4 linked regions of the Homo sapiens genome follow. The protein of the gene in region 3 purifies or fractionates together with the protein of the main gene of each other region. This does not show direct contact. Each region holds a gene or a part of one and is shown on either strand. Other genes may lie near its edges.

Evidence for each region. Proteins that work in one complex are often made in the same cells at the same time.
Region 1: the proteins of DBN1 (region 3) and TMOD2 purify together in Homo sapiens (affinity purification with mass spectrometry; 2 studies listed by BioGRID and IntAct, with this or other methods). This does not show direct contact.
Region 2: the proteins of DBN1 (region 3) and CORO2A purify together in Homo sapiens (co-immunoprecipitation; 2 studies listed by BioGRID and IntAct, with this or other methods). This does not show direct contact.
Region 4: the proteins of DBN1 (region 3) and TWF1 purify together in Homo sapiens (affinity purification with mass spectrometry; 3 studies listed by BioGRID and IntAct, with this or other methods). This does not show direct contact.

Annotation. Positions count from the first base shown.
Region 1 is NC_000015.10:51,810,597-51,813,729, reverse strand, and holds part of TMOD2 (tropomodulin-2), read right to left. Parts: 3' UTR 1-3,133. UniProt on the Homo sapiens protein: Blocks the elongation and depolymerization of the actin filaments at the pointed end. The Tmod/TM complex contributes to the formation of the short actin protofilament, which in turn defines the geometry of the membrane skeleton.
Region 2 is NC_000009.12:98,123,557-98,126,637, reverse strand, and holds part of CORO2A (coronin-2A), read left to right. Parts: coding exon 1-89; intron 90-1,732; coding exon 1,733-1,864; 3' UTR 1,865-3,081.
Region 3 is NC_000005.10:177,456,635-177,462,326, reverse strand, and holds part of DBN1 (drebrin), read left to right. Parts: exon of another isoform or gene 1-95; intron 96-1,623; coding exon 1,624-1,683; intron 1,684-1,771; coding exon 1,772-1,895; intron 1,896-2,586; coding exon 2,587-2,724; intron 2,725-3,058; coding exon 3,059-3,229; intron 3,230-3,619; coding exon 3,620-4,269; intron 4,270-4,569; coding exon 4,570-4,672; intron 4,673-4,823; coding exon 4,824-4,894; 3' UTR 4,895-5,692. UniProt on the Homo sapiens protein: Actin cytoskeleton-organizing protein that plays a role in the formation of cell projections. Required for actin polymerization at immunological synapses (IS) and for the recruitment of the chemokine receptor CXCR4 to IS.
Region 4 is NC_000012.12:43,793,223-43,796,317, reverse strand, and holds the end of TWF1 (twinfilin-1), read left to right. Parts: intron 1-167; exon of another isoform or gene 168-343; intron 344-497; exon of another isoform or gene 498-516; intron 517-562; coding exon 563-733; 3' UTR 734-2,595; downstream 2,596-3,095. UniProt on the Homo sapiens protein: Actin-binding protein involved in motile and morphological processes. Inhibits actin polymerization, likely by sequestering G-actin. By capping the barbed ends of filaments, it also regulates motility.

The DNA.
Region 1 (3,133 bases), on a different chromosome or scaffold from region 3:
AACCTTAGGCTTGAGAGACCAAGCGGTTTGCCCAAAGTTACCCAGCTAAGGAAGTGTGGAGCCAAGTGTCCAGGTTTCTTGACTCCAAATCCAGTGCTCTTCCCCCTATATAGTCTATAATTGGCAGGCAATTGAATGAATTGCCCATGATCATATACCTGCTAAGTGTTGGTGATGGGATTAGGTTTCAGTCTCCAAATCTGTTAGTACGGTGCCCCTTCACCATACCAACTAACTGGGCCAATGTGCTCAGAATGTCTACCATGGAAGAGATCAGAAGAACATCTAGTTAGTTAACTACTCTTTTCTATGTCTAGGTCATCAGTTCTCTCCTTCATCCTCCCCCAAGTCAACAATGTATCCCAACTGGCAAAGCCTCTAAAACATGCACTATTCCTAGAACAGAACCCAGAGTCAGGTTACAAATTTAAACTTGCAACTCCTCTTCCATTGGTCTACTGATTATTCAGTCATTGCTATTACAGACAGATGGGAAAGAGATAAGCTGAGCAAATCTCAGTTCTGCCATTAAACAAATGTAAACCTTTAATTTCCATCATCCTTCCCCACCTCGGTCAGCAATTTGACTTCTTAACTCCTGAACTACAAAGTAAAATCCAATCTGATCTAGGGTTAGGGAGCAATAAAGCAGTGAATAATATCCCTGAAGTTCTTGGCGCTTTTCTCTGGCTAGTATATTACAACAGGAGGCCCTATCGTCTGATTTTCATCCAGTGGGCTCAGCTGGATGCTTCCAAGCACTCTCACACCTTTCCTTTGTGTGCATCTCAGTACTTTAGCTTTAGGATTGGTTGAGTAGCAGGGATATTTGAGATGAAAGCAATAAGAGGAGGTAAAGGGAAGCTGCAAGTGGAAGGCAGAGCTAGGACCTTTCCTCTTAGTTCTCTGCTCGTTAAAATGAAAACAGCTATTATTGCATCATTAGTGGAAGAGGGGAAGGAAGCTTCAGGATCATGACTTAAAACCTGACTCCAGAAACACTTCTACTGAATACAGGTAACATAGCACAGAACCTAGTGTTCTCAACTTCCCGCCCTCTGCCCATTTTTGCTGATGCTATAAATACTTGAATTAAATATGGGATCTTCTTTGTAAAAAAGGCACTCAGTCTACTCCCCAATCTCAGAAACACATATAAAATTATATTAGTCCAGAATTTTTATGCTTCCTCTGTCTTCTTCGTAGTGCCTAGGAGGGGGCTGAGTACATCATATCTGTGAAGAAGGAAATAGCTGCACATGTGTTTGTAAATTCCAAAGGGCTATCTTACACTTAAAGCATGCTGATGCTTAATATTGGTTTTAAGAATTTTCAGTTTGAGCATCTGAAATGTTCTCATGGCAGCTATTCGGAGGACATTGGTTTCCCTAATGCTGGTGCCCTGTCAGGGGCCATGTTTCTGTTGGAAGAGAAGCACCTGCTCTTTGGGCTGGTGTGCCAGTCTTCCCTTAGGGAAATTGGTTTGAGGAGTACAGGCACTGGGATGATTTCTGAGTTTTTAAATGAATGGGCTTTTATTGTAAGATGAACTGCATGCCCCTCCAGGTTGGTAATCTTCTAACCTGGGCCTGCAGCAACTTGGACAGGGACGAGGGAAGCAGGGCTGGGAGACAGCATCTCCCTCCAGTCAATTTTCCAGATGAAGCCAAATACCCCATTATGGTATTTGATGATCTTTATGTACAAAATATTTATATACAATGTGCCCTACAAAGATGGAAGAAAGGGGCTTCATCATGTTGATGAGGATGGAATGTTAAATACATTAGGCAAATGGATAGATTTGGTGCTAGAACAACTAAATGATTTCTAGGCTTCTAATATTTATTTCCTAAGAGTCATCCTCTACATAGCTATAAAATGTGGTGGTTGGTAACATAAACTGCAAAGCCTAGGGAGTAATTTCATATTTAACCTGGGCCTGCAGCAATTCTAAAAAGGACAAGGGAAGAGGACTGGGGAGAGAGCATCTCCCTTCAATCAGTTGTCCAGATGTAGCCAAATACCTAGTTAGATATCTGACAGTACACACACACATACACACACGACACTTATTTACATTATACCCTCCAAAGATGAAAGAAACGAAGTCATTTAATCATGCTGATGAGGATGAAAGAGCTTCCAGTTATACACTATAAGCAGATGGGGAGCTGCAGTGCTGAACTAATCATATGATTTCTAGACTTCTAAGGTTTTTCTCCTAAATGTCATCTACATGTGCCATAATAGATGTTGGTGATACAAGCCCACAAGTCCAGGTGAGTGATTTTACACTTAAAGTGGACCTGCACAACTCTAAAAGGGGGAGGGAGATAGGCCTGGGGAGAAGTTATCTCCCTTCAGTCAGTTATCCAGATATTGCCAAATATCTCAACACAGTATCTGGCAGAACAAATACATAGAAAAATATTTTATATACATTATGCCCCATCACAATGGATAGCAAAGGATTAACTGTGCCCATGATCATGAAAGAGCTACCACTTCCACACTTTGGGCAGAGAGGGAGATGAAGTCCTAGGCTAATTAAATGATGGATAGGCTCCTCAAGTGTATGTTTTTCTAAGGGTTATCATCAATATGTGCACACTCATGGAAATGCCACCTTTCAAGCCACTTTAAAAACACAGGTAATAAGAAAACAAACTGATTAGTAAAAAACATTTGATTTCATAGACTCTGTTGCATGCAACCCAACTATTTCATAAGGTAAAAACAGTGCTATATTTTTGATAATGTCCCATTATCTTGCTTTAATACTATCAACAACTGCTTGTACAAAAGAAACAGCCATGATTGAATTCTGATTCTTTTTTTCTTGCTTTCTGCCAGAGTTTGCCAAGAACTGCTTTAGCCCCCAGCCCACAGCACTGTGGGGCTGCAAGGAATGCTCTATAGGGTCCAGGATTTTAAGAGTCAAGGCAAGAATGAGAGTAAGAAAAAAAAAAAAAAAAAGGAAAAAGGCTTACTTGGAGAGGCAGGTCAGGGACTCAGCACTTAAACAGGTTTGTAACAAATCCAAAGAGGAGAAAAGACATCTAAGAGAAATGTTCTTCCCTTCGGCAACATGATAAGCGAAACATATGTATAAAAAAATGTATAATTTCAC
Region 2 (3,081 bases), on a different chromosome or scaffold from region 3:
CAGCAGAACACAGGCTGGAGGAGAAGAAAACCTGGCTGACAAATGGCTTTGACGTTTTCGAATGCCCCCCACCAAAGACAGAGAATGAGGTGTGAAGGAGGACGGGGTGGGCCTTTCACATGGGGCAGCTGGGGTGGAGGGGAACAGATCCAGGCTGAGAAGAAGGGAGAAAATGAGGCATGAGAAGAATAACCAGCTGTGTGGCCTGGCCTAGTCACTTGACTCATTTTGTTAATTCATTCAACAAACAGGCAGTGAGCTCCATCTTATGCCAAAATGATGGGCATACATAAAGATGGTGGGAGGCTGGGCACAGTGGCTCACTCTTGTAATCCCAGCACTTTGGGAGGCCAAGGCGGGCAGATCATGAGGTCAGGAGTTCAAGACCAGCATGGCCAACATAGTGAAACCCCATCTCTACTAAAAATACAAAAATTAGCCGGGTGTGGTGGCGTACACCTGTAGTCCCAGCTACTTGAGAGGTTGAGGCAGGAGAATGGCTTGAAATTGGGAGGTGGAGGTTGCAGTGAGCCAAGATCACACCACTGCACTCCAGCCTGGGCAACAGAGCAAGACTCCATCTTAAAAAAAAAAAAAAAAAAAGATGGTGGGGACCAGGTGACCAGGTGCAGTGGCTCACACCTGTAATCCCAGCACTTTGGTAGGCCAAGGCGGGTGGATCTCTTGAGGCCAGAAGTTTGAGACCAGCCTGGCCAACATGGCGAAACCCCGTCTCTACTAAAAATACAAAAATTAGCTGGGTATGGTGGTGCGTGCCTGTAGTCCCAGCTACTCTGGAGGCTGAGGCAGGAGAATTGCTTGAACCCAGGAGGCAGAGGCTGCAGTGAGCCAGGATCACACCACTGCGCTCCAGCCTGGGCAACAGAGTGAGACTCTGTCTCAAAAAAAAAAAAAAAAAAAAAAAAAATGGTGGGAAACCATCTGTAAAATGGAGAGGGTTTGACCTAGTGGGTATCAAAGTCTTTCCAGTTCTGACATTATAGGACTTTCTGTGCTTTCAAAGTCCACATTTGTTTAGTGCCTACTGTGTGGCAGATCCTGGGGTAGGCACTTTGATACAGCACGTGATTGAATTCTCTCAACAGCCCTGGAAGTCAGTCTGTAGTGGCTAAGAACACAGAGGCTGGCATCTCACAGATGGATTCTGATCCTGGCTCTGCTGAGTACTAATTTAGGGTCTTAGACCCAGAGACTGAATGTCTCTAAGCTTCCGTTTCCACGGTGGTACGGTGGGGACACTAGCACTGCCACCCTTATAGGGGTGTCACAACGTTCCAGTGGGATAACGAGGCCCTTAGGGCATCACTCAATATCTAACACCCATTCTGCACAGAGGGCAGTTTTCTGACCCCATTTTCCAGAGGAAGGAATGGAAGCTCAGAGTGGGTAAGTAACTTGCCCAAGGTCACACAGTTCAGTGGTGGCGAAAACACCAATCCCCAGACTTCAGAGCCAGGCATCCTTTCCTCTATTTCATGGAGGATCTATGGAAGCAAAATACATCTGAAACATTCCAGTCTTCTTGAATTTCATTTATTGGGTGAAGTAAACAAGGTGTTTGTAAAAGATCTATGCAGTGACAGCCCCATCAGGCCTCAGCCATGTTAATGTGACCGCCTCCACCTTTCTGAGTCAAAGAGGGATAGTGGTTTAGCTTTCAGCTGGTGTCCTGACACCATGGTGATCCTGCCTTCCGATCTTTCTTCCCCAGTTGCTGCAGATGTTCTACCGGCAACAGGAGGAGATCCGAAGGCTCCGGGAGCTGTTGACCCAGCGAGAGGTCCAGGCCAAACAGTTGGAACTGGAGATCAAAAACTTGCGGATGGGCTCAGAGCAGCTCTGAGCAGAGACCTCTGCCCTCCTCACCCTCAGGGACACCACTCGGCTCCATGGGGAGGTTTAGAACCAAACCACAAGTCCCCTCAAGGACAACCACTATTTCTATATTTTTTACCAGAAAACAAAACTCTCCATCGCTGAAAGAGATTCCAGTGGGACATGGTGCCGTTTTTCTGTTTGCCTTCTTGCAACAACAGTTTCTGAATTGACTTTGTTTTCAGATGATGCCTTCTGTTGAATTCTGTTATTAAGGGCCCATGATGAGCTGTAACTTCTCAAGAGGAAAGAACACAGTAGAAAACTAGAGCTGGAAGGATCTAGGTTGACCTGTCTGTGATTTTCAAACTGTGGTCCAGAGAATAGGGGAAGACTGGGCCAGACGCAGTGGCTCATGCCTGTAATCCCAGCACTCTGGGAGGCTGAGGTGGGCGGATTGCTTGAGGTCGGGAGTTTGAAACCAGTCTCACCAGGCGCAGTGGCTCACGCCTGTAATTCCAGCATGTTGGGAGGCCGAGGCTGGTGGATCACGAGGTCAGCAGTTCGAGACCAGCCTGACCAACATGGTGAAACCCCATCTCTACTAAAAATACAAAAAAATTAGCTGGGCGTGGTGGCAGGCGCCTGTAATTCCAGCGACTTGGGAGGCTGAGGCAGGAGAATTGCTTGAAACCGGAAGGCGGGGGTTGCAGTGAGCTGAGATTGTGCCACTGCACTCTAACCTGGGCAATAAGAGCAAAAGTCTGTCTCAAAAAAAAAAAAAAAAGAAAGAAACCAGCCTGGCCAACATGGTGAAACCCCGTCTCTACTAAAAATACAAAAATTAGGCAGGGCGTGGTGGTTCACGCCTATAATCCCAGAACTTTGGGAGGCCAAGCTGGGCGGATCTTCTGAGGTCAGGAGTTCAAGACCAGCCTGGCCAACATGGTGAAACCCCGTCTCCACTAAAAATAAAAAATTAACCAGGCATGGTGGTGCATGCCTGTAATCCCAGCTATTTGGGAGGCTGAGGCAGGAGAATCGCTTGAGCCTGGGAGGCGGAGGTTGCAGTGAACCAAGATCATGCCACTTCACTCCAGCCTGGGTGACAGAGTGAGACTCCGTCTCAAAAAAAAAAAGTTGGCCAGCCGTGGTGGTGAGCGTCTGTAGTCCCTGCTATTCGGGAGGCTGAGATAGGAGAATTGCTTGAACCTGGGAGGTGGAGGTTGCTATGAGCCACGATTG
Region 3 (5,692 bases):
CCAGTCTCCCATGCTGAGGCTTGGAGGTGGGAACGGGTGTGCCTGTTCTGGGAACTGACTGCGTCGTGCTGAGGACTTGATGTCTACATCTCACAGTATGTGGGAGCCTTGGGGTGGGGGCCGGCAGGGGGTGGTGTTGGAGAGGTGACGGCTAGGTCAGGCAGGGGTGGGGGACGTAGGCCAAGTGCGGGCGCTGCCCACCCAAAACAACGTGTGCAGTGGGCAGGTGAAGCCAGTAGGCGATGGTGGGGCCGGGGGTGAGCGGGTGGCACACGCCTGTCTTAAGGGGGCTGCGGCGAGGCCCCGGTGATGGCTGCTCCGGGCTTGCAGGTGATGTCGCCAGGGCTCTGTCACCTCAAGAGAAACTGGGACCCTCATCTCAGTATGAAAGTTCCTGGTTTTTAAGTGGTGGTAACTAATGAACATGGTTTAAAAATATCATACCAGCAAAACAAAAGCCATCTGTGGGTCATATTTAGCCAGTGCTTGCTGTGGCTCATGGGAACCCCTGAGGGATTTTAAGCTCAGGAAAATCATGGTCTGATCCGCATTTTGGAAAGGTCCTTTCAGGGCCTATGGAGAGCAAATAAGGCAGGTAGCAGTGAGGAAGGCTGGACCATGATGCCACGGTCCAGGCAGCAACATTGGGAGCATGGTGGCCCCGGCACTAGGGTAGGAGGTCCAAGAAGTTATCTGCAAAACAAGGAGCACTTCTGGAGGGCCCTAGGCACCTGCTTAGATATGGGGATGAGCAAGTGAGTGAGTGAGCCTGGTGCCCAGAGGCCTGGCAGGTCAGAGATGAGGTGGCTGAGGGCCCTGAGGGAAGAGAGGGGCTGTGTGACAGGGTTTGACGGGGCAGAGGTACCACCTCTGAAACCCTTCCTGCCAGATTGCGAAAGAAGCATGGGGGCTGTAAGAAGGCCAGAAGGGGCCGGGCGCGGTGGCTCACGCCTGTAATCCCAGCACTTTGGGAGGCCGAGGCGGGCGGATCACGAGGTCAGGAGATCGAGACCATCCCGGCTAAAACGGTGAAACCCTGTCTCTACTAAAAATACAAAAAATTAGCCGGGCGTAGTGGCGGGCGCCTGTAGTCCCAGCTACTTGGGAGGCTGAGGCAGGAGAATGGCGTGAACCCGGGAGGCGGAGCTTGCAGTGAGCCGAGATCCCGCCACTGCACTCCAGCCTGGGCGACAGAGCGAGACTCCGTCTCAAAAAAAAAAAAAAAAAAAAAAGAAGGCCAGAAGGCCGGGCACTGGTGGCTCATGACTGTAATCCATCCCAACACTTTGGGAGGCCAAGGCAGGAGGATCCCTTCAGCCCAGAAGTTTGAGACCAGCCTGGGCAACATAGGGAGACCCCATCTCTACCAAAAAATTAAAATTAGCCGGGCATGGTGGTGCACACCTGTAGTCCCAGCTACTCGGGAGGCTGAGGTGGGAGGATTGCTTGAGCCCAGGAGGCAGAGGCTGCAGTGAGCCGTGATTGTACCACTGCTCCCCAGCCTGGGTGGTAGGGCGAGAACCTGTCTTAAAAACAAAATCAATAAATAAAATACAGTAAAAAAGAAGGCCAAAAGCCCCTGTGGGGGGTAGGTGCACCAGACACTGTCCCTTTGGTTTCTAGGGTGACCATCGGGATGAGGAGGAAGAGACCCACATGAAGAAGTCAGAGTCGGAGGTGGAGGTGAGAGCTGGGGGCACCAGCCAGGTGAGGCAGACAGGGCTATCTCAGCTTGCCTGGCCCAGCCCCAACCTTTTCCTCGTGCCCTCAGGAGGCAGCAGCTATTATTGCCCAGCGGCCTGACAACCCAAGGGAGTTCTTCAAGCAGCAGGAAAGAGTCGCATCGGCCTCTGCGGGCAGCTGTGATGTACCCTCGCCCTTCAACCATCGACCAGGTAGTCCTAGGCCCCACCCCCCGTCCGGCCCCACTCCTCAGGTTGCGGCCCTGAGCCTCTCTGGGACTCTCTCAGAAGGGAGGCCTTGCCCAAGCAACCCTTGGAGAAGGCGAGACCCTTCATCCAGCGTGCATCCGCCCACCACTTCCCAGGTGGCAGGACCCCAAGAAGGGCCAGGGATGGTGGTGAAGTCGCTTGTGGCTGAACAGTGGGGAGTGCTAGGGCCTGTGGGGCAGCTCTGGCATGGGCTGAGGCACAGCGCTGGCCACGGGGAGCAGCTCGGCTGGGGTGAATTAGGTCTGGCCTGGAAGGCCGGAATGCATGCGTGCTGGGCTCTTGCCCCGGGCCTGAGGGAGCCTCCCGGAGCTTGCACCCAGGTGTCCCCGTTCCGCTTCTCAGTGTGCTGCTTCCGCCTCTCCTGAAGCTCTTCCCTGCCCTGTCTGCTGGTCTGAGTGTGCTTGCCCCATGCTGGGGTCCCGCCACAGGCCGTCCCTGCTGTACTGCTCCCAGGCTGGCTGTGTGTCTGGGGCTGGTGTGAGGCTGCGGCTGGCTTGGCTGATTGTGCCCCTGGCTGAAGGCAGCTTGGACATCCAGGGCCAGGCCCTGGGGGCGGGAGAGGCCTCGGGCAGGGGTGGGGGAGACTGACCCTCTCTTGTCCTCTGTCTCTTTCTCTGTCTGTCTCTCTCGGCAGGTCGTCCGTACTGCCCTTTCATAAAGGCATCGGACAGTGGGCCTTCCTCCTCCTCCTCTTCCTCCTCCTCCCCTCCACGGACTCCCTTTCCCTATATCACCTGCCACCGCACCCCAAACCTCTCTTCCTCCCTCCCATGTAGGTAGCAGCCCCAGGCCTCGGCGGGGGTGGTAAGGAGGGCCCCGCTTCCCAGCAGCCCCCCGCCCTCACTCCCCCAGTCTGACCGCTGATCTCTGGTGTTTGCCCCCAGGGCAGGCACTGCCTGCCTCTTGCCCCTGGCCTTATGGGGCACTGGCCTCCAGGGGCCTAGCTTACAGGGTCTGGAGCTGTAGTCTGGCCCCTGGTGGGGCTGGAGAGCTCCCAGCCCCCACCCAGATTCCAGAGAGGAGGTGCTGGCCAGGCCCCAAGGTGGACAATCCTGTCTCACCCGGCTCCCCCGCCCTCACTGACCCACCTGGGGTTTGTTCCACAGGCAGCCACCTGGACAGCCACCGGAGGATGGCGCCCACTCCCATCCCCACGCGGAGCCCGTCTGACTCCAGCACCGCCTCCACCCCTGTCGCTGAGCAGATAGAGCGGGCCCTGGATGAGGTCACCTCCTCGCAGCCTCCACCACTGCCACCGCCACCCCCACCAGCCCAAGGTGAGAGAGGGATGCTACCTGCACCAGGCCTCCCATCATCAGTCCCTGGCTGGGAGCCCCAGGTTGCCATGGTAACCGTTCTCCAGGGATCTGGGCCACCCATCACCAAGACTGCACTGCCCTGGAGGCGGCTGTGTGGGGAGGAGCCCTGGTGTACAGTCAGACCTGCCCTCTCTAAAGCTTAGCACCCGCCCTCTCAAGTGGGAATCGGGCCTTGGCCTTCCTCCCGGAGCTGCCAAGGGGCTTAAAGTCACTGGGGTCACTGGGTAAGGGGGCAGTGGGACACCTGCATGGAAGTCCCTGGCTCCCTCACTCCTTAGTGGGTGGGCAGGGTCTCCATCCTCCCCGAGGGGAGCCGGTTACATATCTCCTCTGCCTGTGCTGTGACAGAGACCCAGGAGCCCAGCCCCATCCTAGACAGTGAGGAGACCAGAGCAGCAGCCCCTCAGGCCTGGGCCGGCCCCATGGAGGAGCCCCCTCAGGCACAGGCGCCTCCCCGGGGGCCAGGCAGCCCTGCAGAGGACTTGATGTTCATGGAGTCTGCAGAGCAGGCTGTCCTGGCTGCTCCCGTGGAGCCTGCCACAGCTGACGCCACGGAGATCCACGATGCAGCTGACACCATTGAAACTGACACTGCCACTGCTGACACCACTGTTGCCAACAACGTACCCCCCGCCGCCACCAGCCTCATTGACCTATGGCCTGGCAACGGGGAAGGGGCCTCCACACTCCAGGGTGAGCCCAGGGCCCCCACGCCACCCTCGGGTACTGAGGTCACCCTGGCAGAGGTGCCCCTGCTGGATGAGGTGGCTCCGGAGCCACTGCTGCCAGCAGGCGAAGGCTGTGCCACCCTTCTCAACTTTGATGAGCTGCCTGAGCCGCCAGCCACCTTCTGTGACCCAGAGGAAGTGGAAGGGGAGTCCCTGGCTGCCCCCCAGACCCCAACTCTGCCCTCAGCCCTTGAGGAGCTGGAGCAAGAGCAGGAGCCGGAGCCCCACCTGCTAACCAATGGCGAGACCACCCAGAAGGAGGGGACCCAGGTGCGGCAGGGACTGCCTGGTGGGAGGGATGGGAGGGAGTGGGGGCTGAGCAGGGTGCTGGCCCTGCATTCCTCATGCTTGCACCAGTACCCCCTTCTCTGTGACCCACATTATTTGAGGGGAAGTCCATCCCACCCTCCCTCCCTGGGCCGGCTCTGCTTTTGTTCCCAAGGCAGGCATCCTTGTTTCCCTGGCAACCACTGATGGAATCATTGGTTGCTGGGGAAACGGGCTCAGGCCTGATAGGTCAGCCCCAGTCCTGCTGGGTGGGGCCAAGTGACCTGATGCTTTCCCCTGCAGGCCAGTGAGGGGTACTTCAGTCAATCACAGGAGGAGGAGTTTGCCCAATCGGAAGAGCTCTGTGCCAAGGCTCCGCCTCCTGTGTTCTACAACAAGCCTCCAGGTAGTACTGGGCTGGATGATGGGGAGGAATTTGGGTGCGGGGGCTGGATTTGAGTGTGGGTAGCCACCCCACCACTACCCACCGCTCACAGAGGCTGGGGACACAAGCGGTCTGCTAGGTCCCTAACTCCTCTCCCTTTCTAACGCCACAGAGATCGACATCACATGCTGGGATGCAGACCCAGTTCCAGAAGAGGAGGAGGGCTTCGAGGGTGGTGATTAGCGGTGGCGCCAGCCCTAGGCTACCCTTGCCAAGGCCGCCCACCTGCATCAGCCTCTGGCCAGACGGCCCGCCGTGCCTGCATTCGCAGCAGCTCCGCCTGGCACCCACTCCGGATTCCGGCCCTGGCTGGGGACTTGGCCGCTTCCCTACCCACAGGGCCTGACTTTTACAGCTTTTCTCTTTTTTTAAAAAGTTGATAGGAGACTTGTACAGTTGACTGGCTTTCCTCTCGTTGGTAGTTGAGACGCTGTTGCAAATTCCACCCCTCCTTCCCTGGTCCAGATTGTAGCTCTTAGTCCTCCCTGCTCAGCTGGCCGGGTTGGAGGCCTCACCCTGCTTGGGGCCTGGCGTGGGGGGAGCTCTGGTGGGAAAATGTCCCCCACCTCTTTTCCTAGTTTTATGTTTCTTGGGAAAATATCACTTTGTATTCTCTGTCCAGGGCTTCAGATATTTTGCACGAATTTTAAAACATGGCAATAAATGGCTCGTGGGCTCTGGCTCCCTGGGACCCCCTCCCCGCCCTTCTTTTGACCCCTTCCTGTCTGGCCCAAAGGAAGTAGCAGGCCCAGCTGGGGCCCCTCGGCTACCCCCCGTCTCCTGCCGGGCAGGTCCCAGGTTGGAGGCCCTAGGCGCGGTTCAGGTCAGGGCTATGGATGGGGCCCAGGGGCTTTGGTGGCCCCTCCCCAACTCCTTCCTCTTTGCTTGGGTTCCTTTTTCACGTTTAGTAACTGTTTTTTTTTTTTTTTTTTTTTTTTTTTTGGAAAGCACAAACTTCTGTAACGGGTCGTGCTCATGTCT
Region 4 (3,095 bases), on a different chromosome or scaffold from region 3:
CTAAGAATCAATCACTTTATCATGGGTAGCACCTTCTATAGCAGGGATCAGCTGACTTTCTACAGAGGACCAAATAGTAAGTAAAGGCTTTGCCAAGCCACATATAATCTCTGTCATATATTCTTATTGTTGTTTAACAACCCTTAAAAAATGTAAAACAATCTTACCTTGGGCAAGATTTGGCCTTCGGGCCATGGTTTGTTTACCTCTCTTGTAGAGGGCTTTCAAGTGACCCAAGTGATGAAAGGGTCATGAGTAAATGTTCCTTGAATAAATAGTGTATCATAGCAACTTGAGAATGTAGTGGTGGCTTCTACTTTTAAACATTATTTAAACTGGAGCACTAAGAAAGAACCAAGAAGGAAGTGAATGTAGCTGATTATATATTCAAGTAACTCATTTAGCCCCTTCCCCCAAAAGAAGAAAGTGAAACTGTTTACATATGGTCCTTGATTCTGCCTTACTGGAAAGGGTATTATTTGTGAGCATTCATATACCTGAAAACCAGCTTGTTGCTTGTATTAGGTTTTGAATGTTGTGCTTCTAATTTTATCTTTTACAGATCGAGATAGACAATGGGGATGAGTTGACTGCAGACTTCCTTTATGAAGAAGTACATCCCAAGCAGCATGCACACAAGCAAAGTTTTGCAAAACCAAAAGGTCCTGCAGGAAAAAGAGGAATTCGAAGACTAATTAGGGGCCCAGCGGAAACTGAAGCTACTACTGATTAAAGTCATCACATTAAACATTGTAATACTAGTTTTTTAAAAGTCCAGCTTTTAGTACAGGAGAACTGAAATCATTCCATGTTGATATAAAGTAGGGAAAAAAATTGTACTTTTTGGAAAATAGCACTTTTCACTTCTGTGTGTTTTTAAAATTAATGTTATAGAAGACTCATGATTTCTATTTTTGAGTTAAAGCTAGAAAAGGGTTCAACATAATGTTTAATTTTGTCACACTGTTTTCATAGCGTTGATTCCACACTTCAAATACTTCTTAAAATTTTATACAGTTGGGCCAGTTCTAGAAAGTCTGATGTCTCAAAGGGTAAACTTACTACTTTCTTGTGGGACAGAAAGACCTTAAAATATTCATATTACTTAATGAATATGTTAAGGACCAGGCTAGAGTATTTTCTAAGCTGGAAACTTAGTGTGCCTTGGAAAAGGCCGCAAGTTGCTTACTCCGAGTAGCTGTGCTAGCTCTGTCAGACTGTAGGATCATGTCTGCAACTTTTAGAAATAGTGCTTTATATTGCAGCAGTCTTTTATATTTGACTTTTTTTTAATAGCATTAAAATTGCAGATCAGCTCACTCTGAAACTTTAAGGGTACCAGATATTTTCTATACTGCAGGATTTCTGATGACATTGAAAGACTTTAAACAGCCTTAGTAAATTATCTTTCTAATGCTCTGTGAGGCCAAACATTTATGTTCAGATTGAAATTTAAATTAATATCATTCAAAAGGAAACAAAAAATGTTGAGTTTTAAAAATCAGGATTGACTTTTTTCTCCAAAACCATACATTTATGGGCAAATTGTGTTCTTTATCACTTCCGAGCAAATACTCAGATTTAAAATTACTTTAAAGTCCTGGTACTTAACAGGCTAACGTAGATAAACACCTTAATAATCTCAGTTAATACTGTATTTCAAAACACATTTAACTGTTTTCTAATGCTTTGCATTATCAGTTACAACCTAGAGAGATTTTGAGCCTCATATTTCTTTGATACTTGAAATAGAGGGAGCTAGAACACTTAATGTTTAATCTGTTAAACCTGCTGCAAGAGCCATAACTTTGAGGCATTTTCTAAATGAACTGTGGGGATCCAGGATTTGTAATTTCTTGATCTAAACTTTATGCTGCATAAATCACTTATCGGAAATGCACATTTCATAGTGTGAAGCACTCATTTCTAAACCTTATTATCTAAGGTAATATATGCACCTTTCAGAAATTTGTGTTCGAGTAAGTAAAGCATATTAGAATAATTGTGGGTTGACAGATTTTTAAAATAGAATTTAGAGTATTTGGGGTTTTGTTTGTTTACAAATAATCAGACTATAATATTTAAACATGCAAAATAACTGACAATAATGTTGCACTTGTTTACTAAAGATATAAGTTGTTCCATGGGTGTACACGTAGACAGACACACATACACCCAAATTATTGCATTAAGAATCCTGGAGCAGACCATAGCTGAAGCTGTTATTTTCAGTCAGGAAGACTACCTGTCATGAAGGTATAAAATAATTTAGAAGTGAATGTTTTTCTGTACCATCTATGTGCAATTATACTCTAAATTCCACTACACTACATTAAAGTAAATGGACATTCCAGAATATAGATGTGATTATAGTCTTAAACTAATTATTATTAAACCAATGATTGCTGAAAATCAGTGATGCATTTGTTATAGAGTATAACTCATCGTTTACAGTATGTTTTAGTTGGCAGTATCATACCTAGATGGTGAATAACATATTCCCAGTAAATTTATATAGCAGTGAAGAATTACATGCCTTCTGGTGGACATTTTATAAGTGCATTTTATATCACAATAAAAATTTTTTCTCTTTAAGTTGTGTATGTTCTGTTGGTTTTTCTACTATAGTTTTTTTAATTGTTTGTGTAATGTTTCATAATTCAGTACCTGGTGTTAGGTTAGGAATCCCATTCATTTATTTGTTAATTAGTCTGCCTAAGTCCAAAAAGGATTTTAAGTAGCTTTAAACCTAGGCAAGAATAATTGTGACTATAGAGTGCTTAGATTAAAAATTTGCCACTGTTGTAGCAATAATAAAAATGCCATGAGTTATTCATTTTCTGTAACAGAAGCACCCCAGTACTGATTTACTTGACACTAAACTCAGACTTGCCACTGTATTCATTCATGTGAAAAATGTTGAATGCACTCCTGTGTGCGATTTGGTTTCAAATCCTTTTTATTAGAGATGTGACAAGATGGATGTCTTTGGTAGCAGTTTTACAAAAGATGCTGAAATAGCTTTAGAAAGGCTCATCGTTGGGCCGGGCACGGTGGCTCACGCCTGTAATCCCAGCACTTTGGGAGGCCGAGGC